Homo sapiens: one gene and its partners. The protein of the gene in region 1 interacts with the protein of each later gene in a biochemical or structural test. Each region holds a gene or a part of one and is shown on either strand. Other genes may lie near its edges. The genes, in order: PARD6G, ABCC4, MAP2K2, ARHGEF16, CYSLTR2, DOCK4 and SLCO1C1.

The links.
Region 2: the proteins of PARD6G (region 1) and ABCC4 interact in a test that uses a peptide from one of them, tested with the Homo sapiens proteins (one large-scale study listed by IntAct).
Region 3: the proteins of PARD6G (region 1) and MAP2K2 interact in a test that uses a peptide from one of them, tested with the Homo sapiens proteins (one large-scale study listed by IntAct).
Region 4: the proteins of PARD6G (region 1) and ARHGEF16 interact in a test that uses a peptide from one of them, tested with the Homo sapiens proteins (one large-scale study listed by IntAct).
Region 5: the proteins of PARD6G (region 1) and CYSLTR2 interact in a test that uses a peptide from one of them, tested with the Homo sapiens proteins (one large-scale study listed by IntAct).
Region 6: the proteins of PARD6G (region 1) and DOCK4 interact in a test that uses a peptide from one of them, tested with the Homo sapiens proteins (one large-scale study listed by IntAct).
Region 7: the proteins of PARD6G (region 1) and SLCO1C1 interact in a test that uses a peptide from one of them, tested with the Homo sapiens proteins (one large-scale study listed by IntAct).

The regions. Positions count from the first base shown.
Region 1 is NC_000018.10:80,205,501-80,209,824, forward strand, and holds part of PARD6G (partitioning defective 6 homolog gamma), read right to left. Parts: intron 1-4,324. UniProt on the Homo sapiens protein: Adapter protein involved in asymmetrical cell division and cell polarization processes. May play a role in the formation of epithelial tight junctions. The PARD6-PARD3 complex links GTP-bound Rho small GTPases to atypical protein kinase C proteins.
Region 2 is NC_000013.11:95,157,845-95,162,168, forward strand, and holds part of ABCC4 (ATP-binding cassette sub-family C member 4), read right to left. Parts: intron 3,492-4,324; coding exon 3,345-3,491; intron 1-3,344. UniProt on the Homo sapiens protein: ATP-dependent transporter of the ATP-binding cassette (ABC) family that actively extrudes physiological compounds and xenobiotics from cells.
Region 3 is NC_000019.10:4,103,125-4,107,448, reverse strand, and holds part of MAP2K2 (dual specificity mitogen-activated protein kinase kinase 2), read left to right. Parts: intron 1-4,242; exon of another isoform or gene 4,243-4,324. UniProt on the Homo sapiens protein: Catalyzes the concomitant phosphorylation of a threonine and a tyrosine residue in a Thr-Glu-Tyr sequence located in MAP kinases. Activates the ERK1 and ERK2 MAP kinases.
Region 4 is NC_000001.11:3,471,614-3,475,937, forward strand, and holds part of ARHGEF16 (rho guanine nucleotide exchange factor 16), read left to right. Parts: intron 1-1,464; coding exon 1,465-1,617; intron 1,618-1,779; coding exon 1,780-1,909; intron 1,910-3,094; coding exon 3,095-3,169; intron 3,170-4,324. UniProt on the Homo sapiens protein: Guanyl-nucleotide exchange factor of the RHOG GTPase stimulating the exchange of RHOG-associated GDP for GTP. May play a role in chemotactic cell migration by mediating the activation of RAC1 by EPHA2.
Region 5 is NC_000013.11:48,659,902-48,664,225, reverse strand, and holds part of CYSLTR2 (cysteinyl leukotriene receptor 2), read right to left. Parts: intron 1-4,324. UniProt on the Homo sapiens protein: Receptor for cysteinyl leukotrienes. The response is mediated via a G-protein that activates a phosphatidylinositol-calcium second messenger system.
Region 6 is NC_000007.14:111,726,805-111,731,128, reverse strand, and holds part of DOCK4 (dedicator of cytokinesis protein 4), read left to right. Parts: intron 1-2,408; coding exon 2,409-2,855; 3' UTR 2,856-4,324. UniProt on the Homo sapiens protein: Functions as a guanine nucleotide exchange factor (GEF) that promotes the exchange of GDP to GTP, converting inactive GDP-bound small GTPases into their active GTP-bound form. Involved in regulation of adherens junction between cells.
Region 7 is NC_000012.12:20,736,008-20,740,331, reverse strand, and holds part of SLCO1C1 (solute carrier organic anion transporter family member 1C1), read right to left. Parts: intron 3,226-4,324; coding exon 3,060-3,225; intron 149-3,059; coding exon 1-148. UniProt on the Homo sapiens protein: Mediates the Na(+)-independent high affinity transport of organic anions such as the thyroid hormones L-thyroxine (T4), L-thyroxine sulfate (T4S), and 3,3',5'-triiodo-L-thyronine (reverse T3, rT3) at the plasma membrane.

The DNA of each region.
Region 1 (4,324 bases):
CAGAGCTCTTATGAATGGTTAAGCCCAACTCCAGGTGCTGTTCTTGTGATGGTGAGTGAGTGAGTGATCACGAGATCTGGTTGTTTTAAAAGTGTGTAGCACCTTCCCCCTCTTTTAGTCCTGCTCCTGCCATGTAGGATGCCTACTCCCATCTTGCCTTCTGCCATGAGTAAAAGCTCCCTGAGGCCGTCCCAGGAGCAGATGGTCACCATGCTTCCTGTGCAGCCTGTGGAACCGTGAGCCAATTAAGTCTCTTTTCTTTATAAACCACCCAGTCTGTAGTCTTTCTTTACAGCTATGTGAGAATGGACTAATACATATACCAACTTCCAAAGCAATTTCCTTGTATCACTATATGGCTTTCGTTTAACTGAATACATAAGATAATTTAATCATGTCTAATGCAACTAGTAAGAGTGTTTTTGAATTTTATATAATTCTCACTTCAGTATCACCGCAAAGGGATACAGCTCACTTTCACCTCAGGAACGCCAGGCCTCCCTGAAACAGCATAGGCTAAATGTTAGTTCTACAATGTTTCAGTCTTAACTTTATTTAGCAACTAACCTAAAACACATCTCAGTTTCTCAGTACGTTCAATAATTTTCTCAAAATATGTCTTAGCATGTTAACTTGAAATGAAAAATAAATTCAGACTGTTTCCTGAGAGAAAACAAGGTTGATTTGTGTTTAATGATGAGGCTGACTTTGCCAACCCAGCTATATGGTAAACATGCTTCATATGTTGAATGAGCTCCAAAGTTTTGACAAAAAGAGATGTGAAATGTGACATGACAAAAGCATTGTATTTAAAAATCATATTGGTATTGGGTACTAAATATTTTTATTTCCCCATGATATCAGATTAAACAAGAGTCCTCTAAATGAAGGAATTAGCAGGTATAATTCATTGTCACATACTTCTTGGTAAAGTCCTTCCAGTATACTTACCAGAAACTGAAACAGTGAATGGCTCTAATGACCAGGCAATAAACCTTGCAAGTCAAGTAGTTTCCAATTACTTGCTTTTGACAAAATATAAAGTTGTCCTAACTGAACTGTCAGCTAATTATCAAAATAATTTTGAGAGACCACCCTATTATTTTTGTCACACAACCTGTTGAGAGTTCAAAGAACTGAGCTGTGCTTAGGGGCCTTCACTCTCATCTACCTGAGTGTGCAAATGAAGCTTCACAGTGTTGACACCCAACAATAAAAATTGCAAAACAATTAGTGCCAGCCTACCTCATTTATCAATAAATACTTAACAGTAAATGAAAGATTCTTCAAATGTTTATTTGGATGGCTAGTGATTATCAATAAATACTTAACAGTAAATGAAAGATTCTTCAGATGTTTATTTGGATGGCTAGTGATTATCAATAAATACTTAACGTAAATGAAAGATTCTTCAGATGTTTACTTGGATGGCTAGTGATTATCAATAAATACTTAACAGTAAATGAAAGATTCTTCAGATGTTTATTTGGATGGCTAGTGATTATCAATAAAGACTTAACAGTAAATGAAAGATTCTTCCGATGTTTATTTGGATGGCTAGTGATTATCAATAAATACTTAACAGTAAATGAAAGATTCTTCCGATGTTTATTTGGATGGCTAGTGATTATCAATAAATACTTAACAGTAAATGAAAGATTCTTCCGATGTTTACTTGGATGGCTAGTGATTATCAATAAATACTTAACAGTAAATGAAAGATTCTTCAGATGTTTATTTGGATGGCTAGTGATTATCAATAAATACTTAACAGTAAATGAAAGATTCTTCCGATGTTTATTTGGATGGCTAGTGATTATCAATAAATACTTAACAGTAAATGAAAGATTCTTCCGATGTTTATTTGGATGGCTAGTGATTATCAATAAATACTTAACAGTAAATGAAAGATTCTTCCGAAGTTTATTTGGATGGCTAGTGATTATCAATAAATACTTAATGTAAACGAAAGATTCTTCAGATGTTTACTTGGATGGCTAGTGATTATCAAATTGCACAACTATGTTCCAATCACCATTTGATAATACTTGTTAATAACTCAATCTAGAAATTTACTATAACAATCTATTTCATTTATAATTGTGGTAAAACACACATAAAATTTACCATATTAGCTCTTTTTAAGTGTACAGTTCAGGAGTGTACATTCACACTGTTATGCACCCACTCTCTAGATTGCTTTTCATCTTGCAAGCTAGAACCCTATACTAGTAAACAACTTAAAAATATTTTTAACAAATAGAGCCCCAGGACCACAAGAGAAAAATATTTGAACTTCAATTTATACATATTTTTTGTTGCAGAGAAGAGTAACAGGGGTAACGAAGCATAAGTTATTAGAATAAAATATTAGGACAAAAATCTCTTGAGGGAGTAATGGGAAGAAGAAATCAAAGAGAAAAAGAAACCATGTATAATTTCTGATTAGAAAAGAGCTCTTCAGAGTCAGAAAAGTGGCAAAAATAAGAGTCTGTTTATCCTATTTTAAAATGCATGATAGTGGTATCAAATCACTGCAGCATTTAGATTTCACTGTATCAAATCACTGCAGCATTTAGATTTCACTGTATCAAATCACTGCAGCATTTAGATTTCACTGTATCAAATCACTGCAGCATTTAGATTTCACTGGCTGTATTTAGAAGATCATGCACCAAAAACTTTATTTGTAATGGAATATTTACAGCATGCTGTAAATTACATCCTTTGCAAACTATTTATATTTACTAAAAAAAATTCAGGTACCAACTTAAAAATATATCATCCCCTTTTATAGTGGTAGTTTTTCAAAATTCTTTCAGGCTTCATGTGACATTTGAAGACCACAACATCAGAGTTCAGGGATCACTATGAAAATGCCTAAACCACCATTAAAGGTTAGCAGGAGACTTGGCACTCCCTAATATTTTCATTGTTTTTCATGTGGGTGTTTGTTCGTATAGCAGGACTTACAACAGGACGGCTGCTTCAACATCTGCTGGGCTTCATTCATTCACCTACTATCCCGCACATAAAATGCCTCAAAGGGAGCCATCCTATCCCGGGAGGTCATCTCCTCACTCCAAACCAGTGACCAATTTCAATGAAAGATCAATACTCAAGCCAGGCATGGTGGTATACACCTGTAGTCCCAGCTACTTGGAGGCTGAGGCAGGAGGATCACTTGAGCCCAGGAGTTCCAGGTCAGCCTGGGCAACATAGCAAGACCTTGTTTATGTTAAAAAAAAAAATCAAATTTCCTAAAAAAGATTGCATTGCTGTGCCTGGCCTAGGTTAGTAGCAAGTTAATAGATAACCCCATCAAAAAGTCCACATTGGCCAGCGATGGCTGATGTCTGTAATCTCAGCACTTTGGGAGGCCAAGGGAGAGTCCGAGACCAGTCTGGCCAACATAGTGAAACCCCATCTCTACTAAAAATACAGAAAAACTTAGGCAGGCGTGGTGGCACACGCTTGTAGTCCCAGCTACTTGGGAGGGTGCTCCAGGAGAACTGCTTGAACATAGGAGGCAGAGGGTGCAGTGAGCCAAGATTGCACCACTGCACTCCAGCTTGAGTAACAGAGTGAGACTCCATCTCGAAAAAAGAAAACAAACAAACAAACAAAAAAAAAAAACACACCTTTCCCTCACCAGTACCCTGACACTATGAGCTGTATCATTTCCCCTTAAAAGGACCCATGGTTCCGAGGCAAAATGGCTAATTCCAGGTATATGGCAAGAAATGTATGTAAGCCTATGAATCCCATGTTTATTTTTAAAGAATAAGATTATTTGTTATTGGGAAATACACAGGTGTGCAAATTCTTATTCTTCAATGCTTCTAGCTAAATGAACCCTCATTCATTATTTAGATAATGATTATTCTATTTTGTAGTTGACCCCAACTATTATTCCTACAACAGGATAGTAAAAAACGGGGTTGGGGGAGATTTCATCTTTTAAAATTATTAAAAATTATCTCAAATACAAAATACCAAGATCAATAAGCAAAAGCGTATCAGCATCTGGCTAGGTGTGGTGGCTCACACCTGTAATCCCAGGACTTTGGGAGGCCAAGGCAGGTGGATCGTTTGACTCTAGGAGTTTGATACCAGCCTGGGCAACATGGGGAAACCATGTCTCTACAGAAAAGTACAAAAATTAGCCAGGCGTGGTGGCACACGCCTGTAGTCTCAATCACTTGGCAGGCAGAGGCAGGAGGATCGTTTGAACCTGGGATGTGGAGTCTGCAGTGAAGTGAGACTGCACCATTGCACTCCAGCCTAGATGACAGAGTAAGACCCTGTCTCAAAAAATACAAAG
Region 2 (4,324 bases), on another chromosome or scaffold:
GCAGATCACGAGGTCAGGAGATCGAGACCATCCTGGCCAACACGGTGAAACCCGTCTCTACTAAAAAAGTACAAAAAATTAGCCGGGCGTGGTGGTGGGTGCCTGTGGTCCCAGCTACTCTGGAGGCTGAGGCAAGAGAATGGCATGAACCCAGGAGGCAGAGCTTGCAGTGAGCCAAGATCACGCCACTGCACTCCAGCCTGGGTGACAGAGCAAGACTCCGTCTCAAAAAAAAAAAAAAAAAAGAAACAGAAACTTCGCTGCTGAGAAGAAACACAGACCTTCCAGGTTTACCTTCCCCTTCTCCCTAAATCCAAATAAGTGAACTTGGGACCACAGTGGGGCAGTCAGGGGGACCCTTCCAGAAGGTCTGGTTCTCTGAGTCACCAGCAAGGGTCGCCCATTCATTAACCACACAGATGAGGATCTGGGCAGAAGCATGATGAGGGGGATGGCACACTGGGGTGGGAGTGGACATAAAATAATGGAGAAGACATTTCTATGCTGCAGACCAGAGTCACTGAGAATATTCCAGCACAAGGGCACTGGAGATGGGGATATGAGGGACGTCTAGCCAGACCCCCGGTGTGAATCACCTGGAGTTTCTGTGCCAGTCACCATCCCAAGGTGAGCTTACTGGAAACTACATGCCAGCAGAGGTCCTCCCCGTTTCCTAAGTTTTCTAAAACCTGGGAGAATATCAGGATGCTGAGCTCATAGGAAACTCCCCCGGGGCTCTTCTAAGAGCTTGCTTTTAATAACTAAGTATTCAGACATGCTTCCCAGTCTTTCTACCCCACTCAAAGAACACTCTGCAATTCAGGGGGCACAACATCATGCCAGATACTTATACATATTTAACATGTATGTTTAAGAGTACTGAAAAATCGAGCATGCCTGCCTCACTATCATAGAGGGGAATTTTTATTTATATTATAAAGCCGGCTGGGTCCAGTGGCTCATGCCTGTAATCCCAGCACTTGAGGAGACTGAGGCAGGAAGATCCCTTGAGCACAGGAGTTCGAGACCAGCCCGGGTAACATAGTGAGATCCCATCTCTTCAAAATAGAATAAAATAAATTTTAAAAATTAGCTGGCCATGGTGACACAGGCCTGTGGTCCCAACTACTTGGAAGGCTGAGGCAGGAGGATCGCTTGAGCCCAGGAGGTCAAGGCTACAGTGAGCTGTGATCACATCACTGCACTCCAGTCTAGTCAACAGAATGAGACCTTATTTCTAAATAAATTTTATATATATATATATATATATATATATATATATATATATAACTATTGAAGTGCATACAATCAGTAATGTGAATTCTGAGGCGTAATTCACAGATTTTGTGTATCCTTCACCATTGTAAAAAGTGCAAAAATTTTATCTAAATGAAAATTTTAATTCTACCATTAAAAAACTTTTAATTTTTACATTTTTTCAACATCTACCACTAAAAAAAGTAAATAATTCATGACCTCTAAACATTTTGGACAAAGTAGACCTCTCTTGGGGTACTTATTTGGGCTTCTATTTTGTTGAAGGAATAAAGTCATGCTAATAGATATAGGAGGAGGAAGCAAGATAAACACTCAGGTGCTGCTGTAAGATTAGTCACCTCCAAGATTTAGACTGGGTCCCAAATCCCTGAATAATAAATAAATCAGCATGAGGAGAAGCCCACAGGTCTCAAACATGGAGAGGCTGGTTAATGGTAGTCATGAGCATTCCGAGGCCTGTGATAACAGAAAGGCAGTCCCACTTAATGCTCCAAATGTTATGACTGTAGTTTCAAATTAACTGGCAAAGTGGCGCAACGTTACAGCTGTAATAGCGCAGAGGTCCTCCAATGACTTTCTAATAACAGCTGAAATCAGACCGATATTTGTGTGGTCTCTGCAGTTTACAAATCCTTGCACGTTGCACAGTGCTTGGACTGAAAAGTATTTGTTAAATAAATCTACACAAGATGCTTTCCAGAACAGTCTTCTTTAATCTTCACAAAAATCATGTAAAACAGAGAGGGTAGGAGTAATTTCCACCCCACAGTGAAGGTGATTCAGTTCACAGATACATGGCTTCATTGTCACTAACATTCGTTAGGCACTGACCATGTTGCTACACCCAGTTTCATGTGCTAGGAATGTATTAACATGCTTAATTCTCATAAGATTTCAATTTGGTGGGTATGAATAGTATCCCTATTTTACAGATAAGAAAACTGTGACACAGAAAAATTAAGTAACTAGGACATGAATATGAATGTAACTATAATCAGCTATAACAATTAGTAACCAGCACCAGGATTGAACCCAGGTAGTTAGCTTGAGTTCACACTTTGAACTACAGCATCTGCTTGGAGACTTGCCTGTGTAATAGCACCTATGTGCTCTGGCCTTGGTCAAAAAGCTAGTCAATGGCCAGGCCAAAGCTGTGCCTGTGTTCTCTCCAGGCCACCTCCCTGCTTCTATGAGGGCAGTTATCATTTGCACAATGTCACTCAGGCCTCCCCACAAGTCCACTCAACTGAGCAGGGTGGGGACTTATAGGCACAACTAATTCTCCCTAGGAACCCAGGTCAGGAAGGCTAGCCTCAGAAGCAGGACAGATAAGAAGCGCATAGTGCAGAGGCATCAACCACTTGGAAAATACTGGGTATAGTTGGGTATACCTAGGAAACAAGCTACTGAAGATCTATATGGCAGGTTCAACAAAGTCTCTATTATAGAACCAAAAGTCTACTTCAAAACCACAGAGTTAGAAACTGTTCTTGAAGGGGAGTTTACATTTTATCAATCTTGGCTTTTAATTAACCACATATTATCTTTCAGGGAAACCTCACAGTCAGGGTATGTACAAAAACCCTGTGTTTCCAGAAATGAACGGGTTTCCCAATGAAAGAAAGAAATGCACGGCCTGTCTCACGTCAGAGCATTCCTGATTACAAAGATCCCTCTGAAAAATGGCATAACCTAACACTATGTAAACACAGCCAATGTTTAGCAACTATTCAACTACATTTAAACATGTTTACAGGGAATGCAGGATGCTTCACTTGCCTCACAGCAAATGGATTCCTAAAGCATTCTGCAAAGTGAACATTCATTTATTTTTCCACACACATATAAATTGGAATAAAAGATTGTATGCCCCCCCCTCCCCCCGCATATTTAGATTTTCTCTGGTAGGAGAAAAATATCAGTGAAGTTTCTTGTGGAAAATGAATCAACATGCATAGTGATTTTCTTCCCAGCATCCCTTCCATTTTCAAAGATGGAAATGTAATCAGATCCTAAATGTGTTGTTAACAAGACATACTTACTGAGAAACTTGGTGTCAGACTTACCTATTGGATTTCTATCAAAGAATAATACCGGAGCTTTCAGAATTGACTCAAACATTTTGTTGTGCAAAGTTTGTGAAGAGTTAACAAGGACGTAGAATACCAATAGAGATCTTGCTATGCCAAAAAGAACGGTAGCTACAGTTAAACCTGAAATAAAGAAATATCACTTAGAGAACACAGCATATCTCTGCATTTTCTTCAATAGTTGCTAAAGCAAGCCAGGTAGTTTATAAAGATGTTACTTAATTTATTCCATAAAGCATCTGGATTCTACATAAGTATAATGTATTTACAAAATACATTGACAAAGAAGGATTAAAATAGTTTATTTTTCTCTCACTGAATGGAAACTGCACAGAAAAGAAAAATCAGGTGTATAATACAATTTCATTCTAGGCTCTAATTCAATTGCAAGTTCTATTAAAAACTCAGAAGTAGGATAGATAATCATGAAGTGTAGTTGATCTTCTCCATATTCCAAATCTTATTACTTACATTATGTCCCATAATCTAAAAAAGGTGGTATGTTTTGATACCAACATGTGATATTAACAAGGAATAGGAGAAATGATTTACCTTTTCCTTGTAGAAAATGCCCAAGTAGCTTTAAAGAATTTAAAAATACCGTATTAAGTTGCATGTGGAAAACCTCTTGAATAATTGAATTGCAAGAAAACACAAATTATATTTTAACATAAGATAATTAATCTAAATAAGCAACTAATCCCCCACTGTTTTACATAGACACAAGACATTTTTAAATGAATAAAATAAATCATACATTTTATTAAGACATGAATGAGGATCCATTATTCACATAGAAATTAAAAGAGCTTTCCTAACATCTCTTCATTCACAATGCTAAATACAGTGGGGGTAACTTCTATAACAAATATTTCCCTTTCAGATGACATGTCACTGTTATTTAACCTCTGAAAGCAGCTCAAATTCCTAACTCCATCAACGGGCATTATCCTTAG
Region 3 (4,324 bases), on another chromosome or scaffold:
AGGTTCACGCCATTCTCCCGCCTCAGCCTCCCGAGTAGCTGGGACTACAGGCGCCCGCCACCACAGCCGGCTAATTTTTTGTATTTTTAGTAGAGACGGGGTTTCGCTGTGTTAGCCAGGATGGTCTCGATCTCCTGACCTCGTGATCCGCCTGCCTCTGCCTCCCAAAAGTGCTGGGATTACAGGCGTGAGCCACCGCGCCCGGCAAGTTTTTTTGTAGATATGGGATGGCACTATGTTTCCCAGGCTAATCTTGAACTCCTGGGCTCAAACGATTCTCCCGCCTCAGCCTCCCAAAGTGCTGGGATTACAGGGGTGAGCCACCGTGCCCAGTGATGTATTTATATAAAATGGCAAGCACTTGTTGGTGACTGGAACTTAGGAACAGTGGGGCTGGCTGCTTCCCTGGGGTCTGAACCTATTACTGGATAACTCGGGGCAAGAACCCAGTGGACAGTGGGGCCTCATGGGATGGGGAAAGGAGAGCCAGTGGCTTACGGACCTCGTAGAGGTGCCCCTTGGCCTTTCTGGGGGTCTCGTCCTATCTGCTGAAGAATGCCCGTCTTGTTCTACTGTAATGGAAACTGGACATGTCCATCAGTAAGGGAGTGATTAAAGAATGATATTTGGCTGCTTTGCAGTGGCAAAGTGAAATCCACAATGGTGTACTGAATGGGAGTATCCCCACAGTACAACACTATTCATGTAGTGGAGGGGTGGTTGTAGAAAATAAACATAGCATGGGCTGGGTGCAGTGGCTCACGTTTGTAATCCTAGCACTTTGGGAGGCCAAGGCAGGCGGATCACGAGGTCAAGAGTTCAAGACCATCCTGGCCAACATGGTGAAACCCCATCTATACTAAAAATACAAAATTAGCTGGGCATGGTGGCGCACGCCTGTAGTCCCAGCTCCTCAGGAGGCTGAGGCAGGAGAATCACATGCACCCGGGAGGCGGAGGTTGCAGTGAGCCGAGATCATGCCACTGCACTCCAGCCTGGCGACAGCAAGACTCCATTTCAAAATAAAAGAAAAATAAAATAAACATAGCATTGGCCCATTCATTTGTTTATTGTATTTTCAAGTCAGGGTCTTGCTCAGTTGTCCAGCCTGGAGTGTACTGGTGCTGTCCTCCCACGTCAGCCTCCCGAGTAGTTGAGACCACAGGCGTGAGCCACCATGCACAGCTAATTTATTTGCTTATTTGTGTAGAGATAGGGTCTCTCCATATTGCCCAGACTGGTCTTGAACTCCTGGCCACAAGTGACCCTCCTGCCTCGGCCTCCCAAAGTGCTGGGATTACAGACATGAGCCCATTTCGATGTTGTTTTAAACTCTGGCTGGGCAAGCATGCTTTAATCCCAGTGCTTTGGGAGAATCCCATGAGCCCAGTAGGTCGAGGCTGCAGTGAGCTATGATTGAGCCACTGCTCTACAGCCTGGGCAAGAGAGTGAGTCCCGAGTCTGTGTTTCCAAATACACAGCAAGATGCGGGGGCCAGGTGCTCACTCCTGTGATCCCAGCACTTTGGGAGGCTGAAGTGGGAGGACCTCTTCAGCCAGGACTTCGAGAGCAGCCTGGGCAACATGAGGAACCCCCGTCTCTACAAAAAATTAGCAGGACATGGTGGCGCGCCTGTACTCCCAGCTACTTGGGAAGCTGAGGTGGGAGGACTGCCTGAACCAAGGAGGTGGAGGCTGCAGTGAGCCAAGATCACAGCACTATGCTGCAGTCTGGGCGACCCCTGCCTGAAAGAAAGAAAGAGAGAGATGAAGAAAGATCTGGAACAATATAAGTCACACTTGAGGGGGGAATGGTGGAAGTGATGCGGCGTCCAGGTTATTTATCCTCATTTGAATTTTTTATAAGAAAAATGTGTTTGCCGGGTGCGGTGGCTCAAGCCTGTAATCCCAGCACTTTGGGAGGCCGAGGCGGGCGGATCACGAGGTCAGGAGATCGAGACCATCCTGGCTAACACCAGTAGTGAAACCCCATCTCTACTAAAAATACAAAAAATTAGCCGAGTGTGGTGGCGGGCACCTGTAGTCCCAGCTACTCAGGAGGCTGAGGCAGGAGAATGGCGTGAACCCGGGAGGCGGAGCTTGCAGTGAGCCGAGATGGTGCCACTGCACCCCCGCCTGGGCAACAGAGCGAGACTCCGCCTCAGGAAAAAAAAAAAAAGAAAGAAAAATGTGTTCACCTACTACCTACGTAACAAAATTACAGTTACAAGACCATTTTAAACATCACACACACACACACACACACACACACACACACACACACACACACACACGGTAGACGTGTATGGTCATGCACAGAGTGAGATTTGGGGTCAGCAGTACACAGCTGCAATACCCCCTGCACCACATCCTGTCTCTGTGACTCAGACAAATTGCTTACCCTGCCAGACTTTGGTCTTTATAGCTGGAGATCAGCCCTTCTCAACCAGGGGCAGTTCTCCCTCCCAGGAGACACCTGGCACTGTCTGGGGATGTGTGTGGTTGTCACAACTGGGGGATGCTCCTGGCGTGGAGTGGATGGAGGCCAGGGACGCTACTCAGCGCCCTGCAGTGCCCAGGTCGGCCCCACCCCAGAGAGTGACCTGGCCCCGATGTCACAGTGGAGAAAGGCGGCTGCAGAGAGAGCGATGCTCCTGTGAGGCGTCTTCCACCAGCTCCTGAGGCTGCAGCACAGCGCTCCGCCCGCCCTCATCTCCGGGGAGAGGCTCTTTGAATTTTCTCACTAAACAAACATTGATTGCGGCCCCAGGAGAAACGAAGACGGAAGGAGCTGTGCTGGGGAGCAGGGGTTTTAGGGTTGCGTTTGGTGCGTCTGTTTGGTTTTCGCCACCCTGCCTCTTTCGAGTCGTTGGTCTCTTTCTGGTTTTTGTTTTTTTGAGACAGGGTCTTGCTCTGTCACCCAGGCTGGAGTGCAGTGGTGTGATCTCGGCTCACTGCAACCTTGACCTCCCAGGTTCAAGGGATCCTCCCACCTCAGCCTTCTGAGTAGCTGGGACTACAGGCGTGCACCACCACGCCCGGCTGATTTTGGTATGGGGTCTCACTGTGTGGCTCGGGATGGTCTCAAACTCCTCAGCTCAAGCATTCTTTTTGCTTTGGCCTCCCAAAGTGGTAGGATTATAGGTGTGCGCCACCACGTGCGGCTTTTTTTTTTTTTTTTTTTAATTGAGGAGTCTTGCTCTCTCGCCCAGGCGAGAGAGAAGTGGCACGATCTCGACTCACAGCAACCTCTGCCTCCCAGGTTCAAGTGATCTTCCTGCCTCAGCCTCCCGAGTAGCTGAGATTACAGGCATCCACCACCACGCCCAGCTAATTTTTTTTATTTTTAGTGGAGATGGGGTTTTACCATATTGGCCAGGCTGGTCTCAAACTCCTGACCTCAAGTGATCCGCCTGCCTCAGCCTCCCAAAGTCCTGGCATTACAGGCGTGAGTCACCGCTCCCAGCCCATGTCCGGCCTCATTTTAAGTAATTCTTTTAAGGTAGATTGATAAAAACTGAGAATAGAAGCAGCTTCCACCTGGCCCTGGCTCACTGGAGCTCCCGTCCTGGCACCTCCTCCTGGGCTGTCTGAGCCCTGGCCATACCTGCCCTCTCACCCTGTGTGTCTGCGTCTTCAGCCTGGAGCTGGTGGATGGAGTCACGTGTATGCTTTAGAGGTCTCAAAGCGTGTTGGGTTTTCTAGAACTGCCTTCGGCCTTTCTCTCCAAGCCTAGCTGGGCAGAAGTGGCCAGAGAGCGGCAACCCGGGCACCCCTGAGTCCCAGGATTTCTCCCCCGGCTCCTCCCACCCATGTGAATGAAAGCCATCCCAGGGAAGGCTGGGCTTTTGCAGGAGTCCTGGAGCAGCATGGTGGGGAAATCCAGGCTCCCCAGCCAGCCTCTCCAGGCTCCTCCAGCCCGCCCTCTCTAGCCTCAGTTCCACTTTCCTCTCTGCTGAGCACAGAAGAGACGCACGCCAGACGGTGGCAGTGGGAACTTGGCCTGTCACCCCTGCTGTCCTGGGGGTGGCCTGGCAGGTGTGTCCGGAGCCTCTGCCTCTGAAGAGGCACCTTGGGTGGCTCCCAGTGCCTGGGGTTTTGGCATTTGGGGGTTTTGGTCCCCAGGTTTGTTGCCAGGCAGCCTTGGGCAAGACATGGAATTTCTGTTTCATCATTTATGACATGGATGTGGGGCCACACCCGGGGACCAGCCTACCCATGATGACTCGTTTCCAGGCCCTCCGCAGGATGCCCGGCACAGTGGCGAGGAGACCACAGGCTGTGGGGAGGGGCCGAGGTTACCGTCACCTGGGCTGGCGTCACTG
Region 4 (4,324 bases), on another chromosome or scaffold:
TCTGAGCTCTGTGTCCTCCGGTCCCCTCTGCCTCAGGCAGCTGCATGTTTGCCTCTGACCTCCTCAGGGCTTTAGATTGCTGCCCTGGGGCGGGAAGCTCCGGCCTCCTCCCCCAGCTGGGCCCCCGACAGCTCCTGGCATTCACAGTGAACTGTCTGGGGAATCATCGCTATTTGGGGTAAGCGGCTGGTGGGCGGCTCTCCCAGACCTTTCTCAGAACCTGCAGTCACCCATATGAGCTGCTGACCGGCCTGGCCGGCCTGGGCACGTACGCATGTCGTGGCCCTGCTCATCCAGCAACCGAGGCCTCCCATGACCTGCTGGGTCCTCGTCCACGGGGACTGCAGCTCCATCTGCTGGGGATTCTCAAGGGCAAGCAGCTGTCAGGACACTCTCCCTGCAGGAAGCGTGGCTCCTGCGTGGGTGGCAGGCCCAGTCGGGCCCCGTGAGCAGAGGAGGAGGGACTCCCGCCCACCTCCACGCTGGGTAAGGGAGTCCTCCGAAGGACAGAGCTCTTGGGCTGGGAGGACCTCCTGTGGCGGCGGCCTGGAGACACGGATGTGGTCTCGGGTTGGGTGCTCTGAGGGTCTGCAGGATGGACGAGGCTCCAGCCACCGCCTCACACAGCAGGTGACCATCGTGGGTCCAGCCAAGCCCAGCCTTGGTGGCCGTGGCCGCCCATGGGGGCAGAATCCTGGCAGCCCTGGCCTAGCTCTGACCAAGTGTTAACTCCCTTCATCCTGATCACCCTGGACCAAGGCCTGGGTCATGGGGAGGTGAGGGGCTGGTAGCCCCTTCCAGGGAGTCTGCCAAGAGCCCACAGCTGGCCCCCCCCCGGCCTTGACTGTTCCCTCAGAACGGGGTGGGGGACCTAGTGAAAGTAAACAGTTCATGAACCCAGCTGGGAGCTTGACCAGCAGAGCTGCCTCGGATTTGGGACTCATCCTTGGAAGGGGTGGCCCCAGGCATCGCCCCTCTTTGCTCTTGTGCCTGTCCCCTGAGTCTCCGTCCTTGAGTTTCTTCCCAGGGGCAAGCTGGTGCGGCAGCGGGGGCCCGGGCCTGTGTGGAGGCCCAGTCGTTTTAGCTGGAAGGAGCTTGAAGGGCGAAGGGCACCAACTGGACAGGGCACCAGGACAGGAGGTCCAAATGGGCCCGCCTTTGGGGACAGTCCCTGGGGCTGCCCCTGGACAACAGAGGGACGGCACCAGTGCGTGGGATCGTGGCAGGGGGCTCTGTAAGGAGCCCCAGGCCTCTGACCACTTCCCACCCGCCCTCCCTGCTGTCCAGCATCCCAGGTCCGGGTCCCGCCCCAAGTGCTTGCTGTGTGCTGCCTCTGGGAGCTGAGCTCAGCTCCTGCCACGTCCATGTATGTGTGAGTGTGCATGCAGATGCATGTCTGTGTGTGCACACGTGGGGCCCGACCACCAGGCCCGTGGCACCCTCCTCACCCCTCCTTGCCTTCAGGTTCTTCGAGGACCTGGAGCAGCGGCACAAGGCCCAGGTGCTGGTCGAGGACATCAGTGACATCCTGGAGGAGCACGCTGAGAAGCACTTCCACCCCTACATCGCCTACTGCTCCAACGAGGTCTACCAACAGCGCACGCTGCAGAAGCTGATGTGAGTGGGCGGCCCCGAGGCCCGCAGGGTGGCTCAGGAGCATCCTGCACCCTGGTCTCCCAAAGCACATTCCTGCTCCCAGCCCAGCTTCTGCAGGTCCTGCCTGATTTTGGTACAGGCTGGCCATGCAGAGCCTGGAAGGACAGCCTTGTCCTCTTGCAGAAGCAGCAACGCCGCCTTCCGAGAGGCCCTGAGAGAGATTGAGAGGCGGCCGGCGTGCGGGGGCCTGCCCATGCTCTCCTTCCTGATCCTCCCCATGCAGCGGGTGACCCGGCTGCCCCTCCTGATGGATGTAAGTCCACGGCCTGAGGGTGGGGCCGGGCATACCATCCTGGGGTCCCACGGCCAGAGCCCTGCCCCGGATGGAGCATTACGTGCTTGTGACCTTCTCCTCCAGGCTTGGCCTATGATATTGTAATAGTTACGATCCTAAGATGGCTTTATTAACCAGGATAACTTTGTGGTCGCCGCCACCCACAGAGCTCACTGTGCCGGGAACTGTTCCAGCCCTTGGCGGATTTGTGTTCACTTACTCAATGGTTCATGAGGTTCAGGCACACTGACGAGTTGGAACTGGCATCACCCAGAGCCCTGCTGAGCCTCCTCCCAGCCCCCACCCCACCAGTCCTCCTAGACGTGGTAGCCCTGTCCCTGGCACCTACTCTCCCTGTTCTGTGGACGCAGAGAGGGGCTCAGAGAGGCTCACCAGCATGGGCTGTGTGTGTGGGATGCCAGCCCACAGGGCAGAGGGTATATGAGGGTGAAAGGTGTACACACACACGCACACATGTATATACAGTGTACACGCACTCAGGCACGTATGTGCCCATGTGCACACAATGCATATGTATGGATGCACGCCAGTACACACATGCATGCACACTTGCACACACTGCATTGCACCGATGCATGCACATGTGCACACAATGCACACGTTTGCATACATGCACACACAGGCACTGCACACACATGCACCCGGTGCACACACATACACGTGGATGCACACACATGCATGCACATGGTGCACAGGCATATTCACACATGTGCATGCTGCCCATACACACAGCCCCGCACATGGCAGGACTGAGCTAAGCTTCCTGAGGCTACACATGGCAGGGTTGCCCAAGCCAAACAGAACCTCAAACTCCTGGGGGCCCCAGGGATGTGCAGAAATGGGGCTGCCAGGGGGCCTCCACTGACGATTCCCCAAGTTGGATGGAGATGGCCGAGGATGGGAAGGGAAGGGTTCCAGGCAGGGGTGCTAGCTCCTGTTCCCACTCAACCTGGCCTGACCTGGCAGAGCTCCAGGTGGTGCAGAGGCCGTTCAGGGGCTGTACGTGCTGTGGGGCCCTGCAGGAGCCCCCTGGGGGCAGCTGTTGACCACCCTGCAGCCCCACACGGGGTCTGGCGTTGGTGGGAGCCTCCACACCTGGGATGCCAGAGGGGACTTTCTGTCCCATGTCTGTTGTCCATCCAGACGCTCTGCCTCAAGACCCAGGGCCACTCCGAAAGGTACAAGGCTGCCAGCCGTGCACTGAAGGCCATCAGCAAGGTAAGATGGGGCCTGGCCCCAGCCCTACCCGAGTCCTGTACCCCGACCCTGTCCCCACCCAACCCCACCCTACCCGATGGCATAGGGCTGGCTTCCCCTACCTTCCAGGGCAGCGAGTGTTCTCAGATTATCCATCCCAAGCCTTTCACAGCGCTGACAGGGAAACTGAGGCCCAGAGGTTCCCAGATTATCCATCCCAAGCCTTTCACAGCGCTGACAGGGAAACTGAGGCCCAGAGGTTCCCAGATTATCCATCCCAAGCCTTTCACAGCGCTGACAGGGAAACTGAGGCCCAGAGGTTCCCAGATTATCCATCCCAGGCCTTTCACGGCGCTGACAGGGAAACTGAGGCCCAGAGGTTCCCAGATTATCCATCCCAGGCCTTTCACGGCGCTGACAGGGAAACTGAGGCCCAGAGGTTCCCAGATTATCCATCCCAGGCCTTTCACGGCGCTGACAGGGAAACTGAGGCCCAGAGGTTCCCAGATTATCCATCCCAGGCCTTTCACGGCGCTGACAGGGAAACTGAGGCCCAGAGGTTCCCAGATTATCCATCCCAGGCCTTTCACGGCGCTGACAGGGAAACTGAGGCCCAGAGGTTCCCAGATTATCCATCCCAGGCCTTTCACAGCGCTGACAGGGAAACTGAGGCCCAGAGGTTCCCAGATTATCCATCCCAGGCCTTTCACAGCGCTGACAGGGAAACTGAGGCCCAGAGGTTCCCAGATTATCCATCCCAGGCCTTTCACAGCGCTGACAGGGAAACTGAGGCCCAGAGGTTCCCAGATTATCCATCCCAGGCCTTTCACAGCGCTGACAGGGAAACTGAGGCCCAGAGGTTCCCAGATTATCCATCCCAGGCCTTTCACAGCGCTGACAGGGAAACTGAGGCCCAGAGGTTCCCAGATTATCCATCCCAGGCCTTTCACAGCGCTGACAGGGAAACTGAGGCCCAGAGGTTCCCAGATTATCCATCCCAAGCCTTTCACAGTGCTGACAGGGAAACTGAGGCCTAGAGCCAGTGGAGCTCTCACACAGTTGATGAGCCCGTGGCACGGCTGGTCCAGGGCAGGCACTGTGGGCAGCCAGAGGCTGGCTGGGCAGGTGTCCTGGGCACACTGTGGGCCGTGTGGGCTGTGCCAGGGCCCTGTAGCA
Region 5 (4,324 bases), on another chromosome or scaffold:
AGCAAACCAAATCAAACAACATATCAAAAACACAATACACCATGATCAAGTGGGATTTATCTCAGGATGCAAGGATGGTTCGACATATGCAAATAAATAAACATCATACATCACATCAATAGAGTGAAAGACAAAAGCCATATGATCCTCAATAGATGCAGAAAAATCTTTTGATAAAATTTAAGCTCACTTCATGATAGAAACTTCTTACAATTAGGTATAGAAGGAAAGTACTTCAATATAACAAAGGCCACATGTGACAAACTCACAGCAAACATCTTACTAAATTAGAAAAAGTTGGAAGTTTTTCTTCCAAGAACAGGGACAGACAATGATGCTTACTCTCACCACTCTTATTCAATATAGCACTGGAAATCCTAGTCAGAGTCATTAGGCAAGAGAAATAAATAAATGGCATTCATATTCAAGAGAAAGAAGTCAAATTGTTCCTGTTTACAGATGATAATCTCATATATAGAAAGACTCTACCAAAAACTCTTAGAACTAATAAATCATTCAATAAAGTTGCAGGAAACAAAATTAATATACAAACATCAGTAGTGTTTTCTACACAAACAATGAACTAGCTGGAAAAAAAATATCAAGAGGGCAATCCCATTACAACAGCTACAAACAAACAAAAAACAACCTTAGGAAGAAATGTAACCAAGGAGGTGAAAGACCTCTACAAGGAAAACTACAAGACACTGATGAAATAAATGGAAGAGGATACAAACAAATGGAAAGACAACCCATGCTCATGGAGGAGAACTAATATTGTCAAAATGACAACACTATTCAAAGCAACCTACAGATTCAATGCAATTCCTATCAAAATACCCATGACATTCTTCACATAAATAGAAAAAAGTTCTAAACTTTGTATGGAGCCACAAAAGAACCCAAATAGCTAAAGCAAACCTGAGCAAAAAGAACAAAGCTGGAAGTATCACACCACCAAACCTCAAAATACACTACAGAGTTATAGTAACCAAAATAGCATGTTACTAACAAAAGCAGACACATAGGCCAATGGAACAGAATAGAGAATCCAGAAATTAATCCAAATATCTACAGCAAACTGATTTTTGACAAAGGTGCCAAGAATACTCATTGGGGAAAAGACAGTCTCCTGAATAAATGGTTCTGGGCAAACTGGATGTCTATAGAAGAATGAAACTAGGCCCAAACCTCTCACTCTACAAAATTTAACTCAAAATGGATCAAAGACTTAAATATAAGACCCAAAATGATAAAAACTACTAGAAGGAAACATGGGACACACATTTCAGAACACTGGTCTGGGAAATGATTTTGTGAATAAAACCTCAAAAGCACAGGCAACAAAAGCAAAAATAAACAAATGGGATTATCAAACTAGAAAGTTTCTGCACAGCAAAGGAAGCAATCAACAGAGTGAAAAGATAACCTACAGAATTTGAGAAAATATTTGCAAGCTACTAATCTGACAGGTGACTAATATTCAGAATATACAAGGTACTCAAACATCTCAACAGCAAAATATTCAATTTTAAAATGGGTAAATGATTTAAACAGACATTTCACAAAGAAGACATTCAAATGGTCAACAGGTATATGAAAAAATGTTCAACATCACTAATCATCAGTGATGATTTTGCAACTCAAAACCACGATGAGGTATCATCTCACCCCAGTTAGGATGGCTATTATCAAAAAGATGAAAAAACAAATGTTGGCAAGGATGTGGAGTAAAGGGAACTCATGTGTTGTTGGTGGGACTGTAAAGTAGTATAGCCACCATGGAGAACTATATGGAGGTTCCTCAAGAAACTAAAAGTAGAATTACCATATGATCCATCAGTCTCACTTGTGGGTACTTGCCCAAAAGCTTTGAAACCAGTTTGCCTAAGAGATGTCTGCACTGACATGTTTACTGCAGCACTATTCACAATAGCCAAGTTATGGAATCAACCTAAGTGTTCAACAACAGATGAATGGATAAAGAAAATGTGGTATATATACATAATGGAATACTATTCAGCCATAAAATGGAATGAAATCTTGTCATCTGTGGCAACAAGGGTGGAAATGGAGGACATTATGTTAAGTCCATTGTATTTCCTAAACCAGAAACAGAAAGTCAAACACCATATGTTCTCACTCATATGTGGAATAGTAAAAAAAGTTGATCTCATAGAAGTAAAAAGTAGAACAGAGGAAACCAGAGGCCTGGAAGAGTGGGGGAAAGGGAGAGATTTGGTAAAGGATACAAAATTACCACTAGATGAGAGGAATAAGTTCTAATGTTCTATACCACTGTAAGATGGCTCTAATTAACAATAATGTATTAAATAGTTTCAACTAGTTCAAAGGAGGATATTGAACGATCCCAACAAAAGGAAATGATAAATATTTGAGATGATGGATATGCTAATTACCCTGATCTGATCAATATACATTACATGTATAGAAACATCAATATATACCCCATGAATATGCAATTATTATTTGTCAATTTGACAAATAAATTAAAATAAATAGAAGTGTTCACAGGAGACAGTTGGTGTAAGGTAGCAGGCCACATCTGCCACTTACTGGCTGTGAGATTTTGCAGAAGTGACCTATCTTCTCTGAGCCTCAGTTATGCCATCTATAAATGGCATAATAAATGTGAGTTGTCTCATACAGGGTGAGCGCTCAGTGATGTTAACTATTATTATTAAACCTCAGAATTGGGACCTAGAACAAGCATTAAGGAGGCAAAATTTTTGCAGGGCACTAGTAAATATATAAAAACAAGGCTGAGAAATGATTTAATGATAAAAAATGGTGAGAAGCATGACAGGTGTTGCTCTCAGCTGCAGGGAAGCAGTAACAGAGCAGCAACCTCAGGATTTAAATCCTGATTTGTTCACGGACTACCTCTATGACCATGGGAAAATGACTTTATCTCCCTCGGCGTCAGCTCCTTATCAGTAAAAGGGGGTAATGCGGCCAGGCAAAGTGGCTCATGTCTGTAATCCTAGCACTTTGGGAGGCTGAGGCAGGAAGATCGCTTGAGCCCAGGAATTCAAGAGCAGCCTGGGCAATAGAGCAAGACACTGTCTCAATAAAAAAGAAAAATTAAAAAAAAAGATTAATTTAAATAAATAAATAAAAGAAAGGGGTAATGCTAATAATAGTTCTTACTTCATAGGGTTGTAAGGATGAAGTGAGATAATACATGAATGGCACTTAGGTCAGGGCCTGGACCAGAGAAAGTGCCATATTAAGTGTTAGCTGTTGTTATTGCAAAGGCTGACAGAATAAGCTCTCTGAAGTTGTGCAGAGAGGATTCTGCAACACATTTGTTCCTCAAAATCCCAGAGGCCTCAGAGTGCTGAATTAACACGGCCCTCCAGAACAGGGAAGTATCACTGAGAGTTTACTCTTGAGACCCAAGCTGACAACTCAGAGTTTATTTGTAACAGGCTCCAAATGTCATGTCAGAAATGCCAAGCTTTCTAGACCTTCCTGGCCTTCCAAGAACGGTCTTGTGCTTTCAGAATTTTTTTTTCAAAAAGTCAAGGTGAATTAAGTTCTTGGAGATCAAAACAGAAACACAGATAAAAGGAACTGAAATTGTGACATATTTTGAATGTGAAACGGAGCTGGTCTCTGAGCTTCCAGAGGAAGTGGGATGGAGGGGAATGAATCTCACAGGGCCTTGTTTTCATGGACTCAGTGCCTTGGAGAATTTTGCTGCACTGATTTTTCCTCTACCCGGTCACCCACAAAGTGCCTCAAGGAGCCCCCAAAGTATGAGTCACTTCATTGGCCACCAGGCTGGTGACCCTTTGCTTTCTGAATGCCATTTATTTCCACATGCCACTTAACCATGAAGTCAGCACTTTGGGCCATTGGTGAAGAGTTTTCTGGCAGATCTACTGTTATCTCCCAGAGAACAACTTATCCCCAGGGATGTAGCAGGGATTGAAACCTAGCAGAAGTTTGGCATCCAAACATGCCAGGGGACACCTCTGCCCTCAAGAACAAGATGTACAGCATTACCTCAGACCTCCTTCTTCCCACCTCTGTCTTTACTAATTCTCCTTGTTTCCTTCTTTAATAGACTCCAAAAGCTAGCTTCTCTTGCACATTCATCCTACCACTAACATTCAGCCACCAAATAAACAAACAAAAATTCAACTCAACAAAAACATCATATATGAAGAGCCCTGAGCTGCTTAGAGATATGGCTTCATTTTGTTTAAAAACATTATTTTGACTAAATGTTGCCCTCTCTCTGGCTCTCAAAACTTTCCTCAGCTCTCCTTGGTTAATATAACACATGAGTCTATGA
Region 6 (4,324 bases), on another chromosome or scaffold:
TATGAAGTACCTGTGACAGCATTCACTCTGGAAGTCATAGCCTGTCACCTCGATGTGATAGAAAGGAAAGCAACATGGCTTTTCCGCACTTTTACATTTGCCCTTACTCACACAGAGCTCCCACACGTTGCTATGGAATTATCATCTGTATTTTTCAACTTAAATTTTGTTGGGTAGTAAGAAAATAAGTCTTAAGAGATTAATTCTTAAACATTAAAAAGAACCCAAGAGCTAAAAATGTTTGAATAGCTATAAAATAGTCTTAGCAAGCTGGTATATACTGTCTCTCAGCAGACCTGTGTACATTTTTACTGGCCATATGCAGTTCGAAGCCATGTCTTTATATGTAGGGTTTGAAGGAAGAGAACATAGATCGAACATTTGTGTTATACCTCCTGGGTTACATTAGGGGGCACACTGCTACCATGTTACTAGCCTTGCAGTGTGCTGCCTTAACTGATAAGAGTTTAGTGGGGTTTTGGGTTTTTTTTTTACCCCAGCCAGCCATCAAACTGTGGGTCTAACCCTACAGCGAAGACTGAGCTGACCTGCCATATTTTGAATTTCAGGTCTAACTTTTGACAGAGGTAGCAGTGAATTGGGAACTCTTAATTGGCCTTAATGTTAGGCTCCTACTAAATGACAGGATGTGTATCTACCAGCGTTATTTTGTTTACAAAGAGAAACCAAAGTCAAGTTAGCTTAAGAAGATAGCATTTCTCAAAGTGTATACCATAGAACACTAGTTTTCCAGGACATTATGTAATAAGCGGGGGAGAAAAGGTCTATAGTCAAGTAAGTTTGGAAAACACTGGACTGAACAAAATTATTTGTATTCCTTTATTCTAAGCCTTGAAAATGCGAATATGTTTTGAATATACACAAGGAGTATACAGTGTGCAGCATTTCCCAGCGGAACCCTCTTTTCACAGAGCATCTATCTTAGGACTCGTTTTCCTTGGGATACTAGTTGGGAAAGTAACAAACTCAGATGCCAAATGGGGCCAGACAGCTGACACAAATGAAGGAGGCCGGGTGTAGTCCCCACGTGGCATAGTGGGGACTGGCAAAGTGAAAAGGGACAGCCCTTCTCAGCTTTTAAAGATTATCTCTATTAAGAGAATGTGTGCCATTGTGGCCAGAACTCCTAGTTCTTTATGAACTGCCAGAATTCTGGAGTTTCATGTGAAATTTGAAATGTTAAAAATTAACTAAATTAGGTTTTTAAAAAACTGCTGAGGAAACAGCTCACATCACAGGCTACAGCCCCGAGGGCTGCCAGTTCGCCAGTTCAGCTCAGGAGTCTGGAGTCTGGAGTGATGGCTGGAGAAATCAGGTGCAGAACCTCGGGTGCCTCTGCTCCTCCTCCTGAGCTCTCTGGGTCTTCTGAGCTGAGTGTGCTCAGCGGCCCTGGCTCCTGGCCTGCAGCATGCCCTGCTGAGCTGGGAAAGTGAATAGCGCCCCCAAAGGTTTTATGGCGTTTTTAGGTTTTTGGGGTTTTTGGCCAGTTCCCTCTCTTCCAAACTATAGGACTAATGTGTGCCTCCAGATTATCTTGGTGGATACCTTTATTTATTTTTTGAGACAGGGTCTCATTGTGTTGCCCAGGCTGGAGTGCACTGGTGGCTCCACGGCTCACTGCAGTCTCAACCTCCCAAGGTTCAGGTGATCCTCCCAGAGGAACTGGGATTACAGGCATGAGCCACCACGCCCAGCTAACCCTTTGGATTTTTAGTAGAAATGGGGTTTTGCCATGTTGCCCAGGCTGGTCTCAAGCTCCTGGCCTCAAGTGATCCCTGCATCGGCCTTCTAAAGTATTGGGATTACAGGCGTGAGCCACCATGCCCAGCTCCTTTCTCCTCTATCTGAAAATGATAAGGAGTAAACTGGGCGGTGAACTGAACTCGAGGACTGGTGGCCCTCGCAGATAAACGTCTGGTGTGCATTTTCAGTGCTACAAAGGACAACACTCAAATTTGAGTGTGAGTGTATTCGTCTGCTCGGGCTTCCCTCACAAAATACCACAAACTGGGTGGCTTAGACACTGGGAATGTATTTTCTCAATTCTGGCAGGTAGAAGTCCAGGATCAATGCGTGGCAGCCTTGGTTTCCCCGAGGCCTCCCTCCTGGGCTTGCAGACCGCCCTTCCTGCAAGGTCTGTGTGTGTCGCATTCCTGACGTCTCCCTGTGTGTCCAAATGTCTCTTATAAGGACACCAGTCAGCTTGGATTAGGATCCACCATAATGGCCTTTTACCTTAATCACCTCCTTAAAGGCTGCATCTCCTGCTGCAGCCGGCTTTGGGGGTGCTGGGGGCCGGGGCCTCCGCGTCGGGGCGTACATTTCAGCGCATCTGCGTTCACGACTCAATGCTGTGTCTCCCTCTCGTTTCCTTCTCCCCGGAGCAGGGCTCTGTGCAGTCTTTCACCCCCTCTCCAGTGGAGTACCACTCGCCAGGACTCATCTCCAACTCCCCTGTCTTGTCGGGCAGCTACAGCAGTGGGATTTCTTCTCTCAGCCGGTGCAGCACGTCGGAAACCTCAGGCTTTGAAAATCAGGTGAATGAACAGTCGGCCCCCCTGCCGGTGCCAGTGCCGGTGCCCGTGCCGAGCTACGGCGGGGAGGAGCCAGTGCGCAAGGAGAGCAAGACTCCGCCCCCGTACAGCGTCTACGAGCGGACTCTGCGGCGCCCCGTCCCGCTACCTCACAGCCTCTCCATCCCCGTCACGTCGGAGCCGCCCGCGCTGCCCCCCAAGCCTCTGGCAGCGCGATCCAGCCACCTGGAGAATGGGGCCCGGAGGACTGACCCCGGCCCGCGGCCCAGGCCCCTGCCCCGCAAGGTCTCTCAGTTATAAGTCACTTTTCTATGTACCTGCGATGCATTCTTTGCCCGTTTACAAAATAAGAAGTATGATGAGAAGACATTTAGTGTAGGCACTTTAATAACTTACTCAGCTCCTTCGATGAATGGAATTAAAACTTGCTTATTAAATATCATGTTGCACAATATTAAAAGTTGCTGATCTAAAACGCCAGATGTTAAATGAAGTATGGCTGAATTTCATTAAAACGTTTCTCATTTGGAAGTGGTAAATAGTGATAAAGACTCCTTTTGTACCTTTTTATGTTCACTTTTTTTTATATAGTTTAATCTTAAAACCAATACGATATTGTCAAACGATACAATGTGTGACAATGTTGTATCGTTTTTACTGAATACTTGATACTTGGAGAAAGCTTATTAAGTCAGTGCACATCCTAACACAGTGGTCCTTATTTTAGAAGACTTCTGTAAATAAGGCAAGGTTTATCAGTGCAGATCATCAGAATTAAAGTTCAAGCAGGCGAGCAAGACAGTATACTTAAGGGGTTGCAAAGCTTGGGACTGGAAATTGTTTTGTTCTTGAAACAAAATACTTCTTTAAGGTTGCTTTTGCTGTTTGACTGCTGTCTACATTCGTAAAATTCTATTTTGTGAATTGGTAGCTAAATCCCTTACTACCCTGACACCGTGGTATCTACTGTATTTCTTTTCAAGGTGCAATTTGCTTCAGAGTTCCAATCAGCTAGATTAAGCAAGAGGCTCCAGAAGAAATGTTTACTTGAATTTTGCGCTTCCTTTCTTGATAGTTTCCTATATAAAATTTGTCATTGAACAAGAGCAAATGCTGAAGTATTAATGAGGCACAAATGACTGTGCCCCATTAGCAAGAATTCAGGAATCAATACAGACAGTATTAAATTAATAGCTTAAGTGAAGAAAAAAAAAACTTAGTGAAAATGTATTAGCACGATTAAATGGCAAAAGGACTTATAAAAGGCAAGGGCATTAACTTTCAGTCCTGCACAAAATAAAAAATTCCTCACGACTCTCCACTTTTACCAGTGGAGTTTGTCTTAGCTGACCTGTCGTCTTTCTCTTGAAGGAGGATTGCTGTAGACTTCTCTAGCTTGAATATTGCAACATAGCATCTTAGGTCTAGATAGGGATGCTAATGCCAGTTGTAGAAGTGTGAAAAAAGCACCTTGTATGTAGTAATGTATTTTATATCTTTGTTTTTTCTTTTACTGACTGTTTATAACACTCAATTGACAATAGATATGAACTGTATTTTAAATCATACTGTTAAATATTTTCCCTCTTTTGTTGGGAAGCTCATTTTAGTTTAACCATGTTTGTTTTGTTGGTAGCTTACCTGGAAGGCAGTGACCACTTTTTTATATTCTCTTAATGAAACCATTCAGCAGGTATATGCTGTTGAGGCTGGTTATAGAGGTTTTCTATAATAAATGTTCAAGTATTTTTGTATATAACTGGTTAATT
Region 7 (4,324 bases), on another chromosome or scaffold:
ATAAAGTATAGGATGTGATGACTGAAATTACAAGGAAATACAGAAACATTTGGGGACATCCATTGTCTTTCTGACATCTTCCCACTATGCCTGAGGAATTTCCGGATTTAGAAGCTGCAATTCCCACACAAGTGCAGTTGTAAAATATCTGTAACACGATAGGGAAAAGTCCAATTATTTCAGTAACATTTAAATAAAGTTAAAGACAGTTATGTTAAAAATGTTTACCGTAGCCATGCATTATGTAAACAATGAGGAAATATTCTTTTATTTTTTTGTATTACAGTATATTGAGCAAAGCAAAATCTATATAGATACAACATTTCATTATCTAAAGAGCAGATGACTATCTACAAACTACTAATCCTGTACAACAATCTCCCAGCAAATCCTGCCTAATCTAACCATACCTTACCTCCTTCGCTACCACTTCCAATGCTAAGTAACCATGATTTCTTGCCTAGATTGTTACAATGCTCCCTTTATGCGCAACTTGTTTCCAATCTTATCTAGCTAGTATCTGCTTTCCACCCAGTAAGTAAAGTGAACCTTTAAACATGGCAGTCAGACTGCATCACTACCCTCAACCTGCCAGTGGTTTCTCATCATACTTGCATGAAACCCCACATCCTTATAACAGTTTACACTTTCTCCATCATGTAGCACCTGGATGCCACTCTAATCTCACCATTCAGTGATCTTCCCTCTCTTCTTCTGTGTAAGCCACACACATGACCCTTGCAAAGGCCCCATTTTGCCCTTTCCAAACATCCCCTCAAACCTGGCAAGTTCATCCATGCCTCACGGCCCTGCTATTTTCTCTGCCCGGGCAGCTCTTCTCTTCGGTGATTACACAGCTGGCGTCCATACTTTAGTTCTCCGTTTAGAGGTTTTAATAGAGACCTTCTATGACTATCCATTTAAAAAAAAAAACAAAAAAAAACAACTCCCATCTCTCCATCTTCTTATTCTAATGTATGTCTTTTTTTTACAGTGCTTCTTACTACCTATCAGGATATCCTGTATTTACTTATTTTTAAAACATACTTTCCCAACAGAATGTAACCTCCATGAAAGCAGAAACTGCTGCTTTGTTATTATGCAACTGGGGAATGGAATAGACTCTCATTTTAGGCATTTGATAAAACTTAGTTAAGTAAATGGGAACAATTTGAGGATATGACATAATTTACAGTGGCTATGAGAAAAAAATAATTCTGGTGCATAAAACTCAACTAAATTTTGACTGAAGAGAGACAATTTGTATAACCCCTCAATAGTTTATTTCTGTAAATTTTATTTATGAATGCATATATATAATGTTATCATTTTTAATCACAAAAGAGTTTGTGAGTTTTTAGACCATAAATAAAGCTGGCATTTACTTTTCTAGAAAGAGTGGCAATATAGATTTTTTGTAATGTCAAGTTGAAACCTTTGAATCTTAATTCTGGTCGCTCACTAGATAAATGAGTTAAGCAAGTCCTTTGTATCTCAGTGCCTCAGTTCTCACATGAAGAAAATACTGAAAATAATGCAAATTATTTCAGGACCATGAGATTTAAATGTAATTTTGTTCTTTTAACACCAATCTTTAACCTTTCCTTGTAATGTCTTTTATAAATGGTAGCTCTCATTACAAAAAAACCTTCATGCAGCTGTGAGCAAAAATAACAGTAGCTGAAAGAAAAATAACAAAGGAAGAAAGCAAAGAAAAGAAAAAAAGAGAAGCATGAAAACATGTTTCAGATGAGTAGGTAGTCTTATTCATTGTTGCTAGAAACCAATCCTTTCTGCTGTAAATAAGTCAAAATAATAATACAATGAACAGAGTAAATTAACAAACTTAACTGTATATCTGTGGATATACAGCCTAAGTATTCATATCCAGTTGATAAGGATATATAAATAAATGAGATACATGGGTGGTCTAATTTTCTGCCCTCTAGGATTGTCAAATAAAGGCAAATTTAATCAGTCACAAATAGAAAGCAGTCTCAGAGAGCAAGGATAAGGAAGAGTCTGTTTGGGACAGGAATGGAAAGGTGTGCTGAGAAGGGTGAATCTGTTAATGATTGAAGTACTTTACATCCTTCACAATTGCTTTCTGTTAAGGATTGAATATTTTCCCAAAATTCATATGTTGAAATCCTAACCTTCAATGTGATGGTATTTGGAGTAAAGCATTTAGGAGGTAATTAGTTCATGAGGGTGTAGCCCTCATGAATGTGATTTTAGTGCCCTTATAAGAAGAGACAGGAGACCTGTCTCTCCCTGTCTGCTCTCTGCCATGTGAGGATAAAAGGTGAAGATGGTCATCTGCAAACCAGAAAGTGGGTCCTCACTAGGAACCAGTTCTGCTGGCACCTTGATCTTGGACTTCCCATCATCCAGAACTATGAGAAATAAATGTTTGTTGTTTAAGCCACCCATTCTATGGTATATTTGTTATAGCAGCCTGGACTGACTAAAATAGATTCCTACCTATATTTCCTACCTCATCTCCCTCTTCTGCCCTATGGAAACCCTCCATTCCAGCCCACCTGCCCTTTCATTATTATACAAATTGGCTTGATTTTCCAAAGTTGTCCTAGAACCATCAACCTCCTCATTATCAGATCCCTGACCCCAAGGTCTAGAATCTCTGGAGCTAAGCCTCCTAATACTGGCCTCTATTTGTTCATTCCCTAAAACCTCCAAGGACCACGGATCTTAGGGCCAGGGGACATGGATCTGAAAGCATATCTTATTATGATGATCATACGACAGACATTCTAATTCAGGGCTAACACTTCTTATAAGCAAAATGAGAGAAATAGACTACATAATTACAAAATCTCTTCCACCCTATTTGATGACTCTAATTCTCACCCTAATTTTTTCAGCAACTCCAGTACCACTAGGAATGGTTATAACATTTTCTTTTTCTACAAAAAAGGACCAGGCAGAGGTAAGAGGCAAGCCTCCTACTAGTAGTGGTCTGCTGTGAGCCCCCATAGAGTTTTGTTGTTTATATTGTAACAGGACCATCGCCATATACTTGAGAGGTGATTTCTTACAATATTTTTTCCACTCCTGTTGGAGGTTTGACAACCAGCAAGACAAGCTGATACATATGTGATTCCATTTTCACCGCACATGGGTTCCCATTTTGTCTCTGAACATTTGCATCTTGAGTTGCAATCTGAAAAGAGAGCTCGTTCATGATAAGAGACAGGTTTGGTTCTGAAAAGAAATATAACAATATAAAATATTACCTCTTAGCAGGTAGCACCCGAATATTTTCAAAAAATCAATGTTCTTGAGTGATATAAATGATACTATGAACAAAATTTGCCTTTTAGAAACACAGTTGTCATCAGAAATGGCAGCTTCTGGTCATGAAATGTGAGTTTACTAATAAACAGCTTTCTCTTGAAAGTTATCTTTAGAGGTTTACAAATTCACATGATGTCCAGTTCTTAGCTTATAGCTTTCAGTCTACAGCCTCTAGGATCTTCTAATATACTTCTGTGCAAAGGTGTATAAAAATAGCTAACAAGGTAGAAAAGTAAACTTTTAGAGCAATTTATGACACTACTTCAATGCATCACAGGTGGGGTGTGTGTGTGTGTTGTGTGTGTGCAAATTTCATTCAGAATTGTTGTCTAAGTATGAGTGGAATGGATATTACTAATGGTCCAGTAAAAGGAAAAATAGCCAATCAGTTATCAGTTAATTCTCTTTCAGTGTTTGCAGGAGTTACATGTCCTCTTGCATGTGTGTAACCAACAAGTGCATTCCCAGTTCATTCAACCTTTCTCCTGTGTATCCTCCCAGTGTATAGTGCTCTTTCATATCTTATAGCATCCTTTCTTACTCAAATTCACAAGTAAGTTCAATGACTTACCCATTTATTTGTTGATAAAATTTTACTGGAAGCCTACTAAGTGCTAGCTCCGGGAGAATAGGAGATGGTTACAAACATTAATGAGACAAAATTTGCACCCCCCCCCAAAATTGGTTTTTTTGAGTTATTTCACAAAATTGTGATTGCATTCTTTCTTTTCTCCTTCATTTTTTTTTGTTCTCTGCCATTCGCTTTTATATTTATCCTTCATCTCTCCCAGTATTCTCTCTCCCTCACTTTTTTTTCTGTCACCTGAATGGCCTAATCCTTCTGCTTTTATCCTTTTTTTTGCTATTCATATTCCTCTACTCTTCTCAAAAGGAACTTTTGCAATGGTATGTCATTTCTATCTGCACCATATGTGCCATTCATTGGCCCTCCATACTTCATTTTTTCTGCTCCTTATTTTCAAATTTATTTATTTGCTTATTCCTC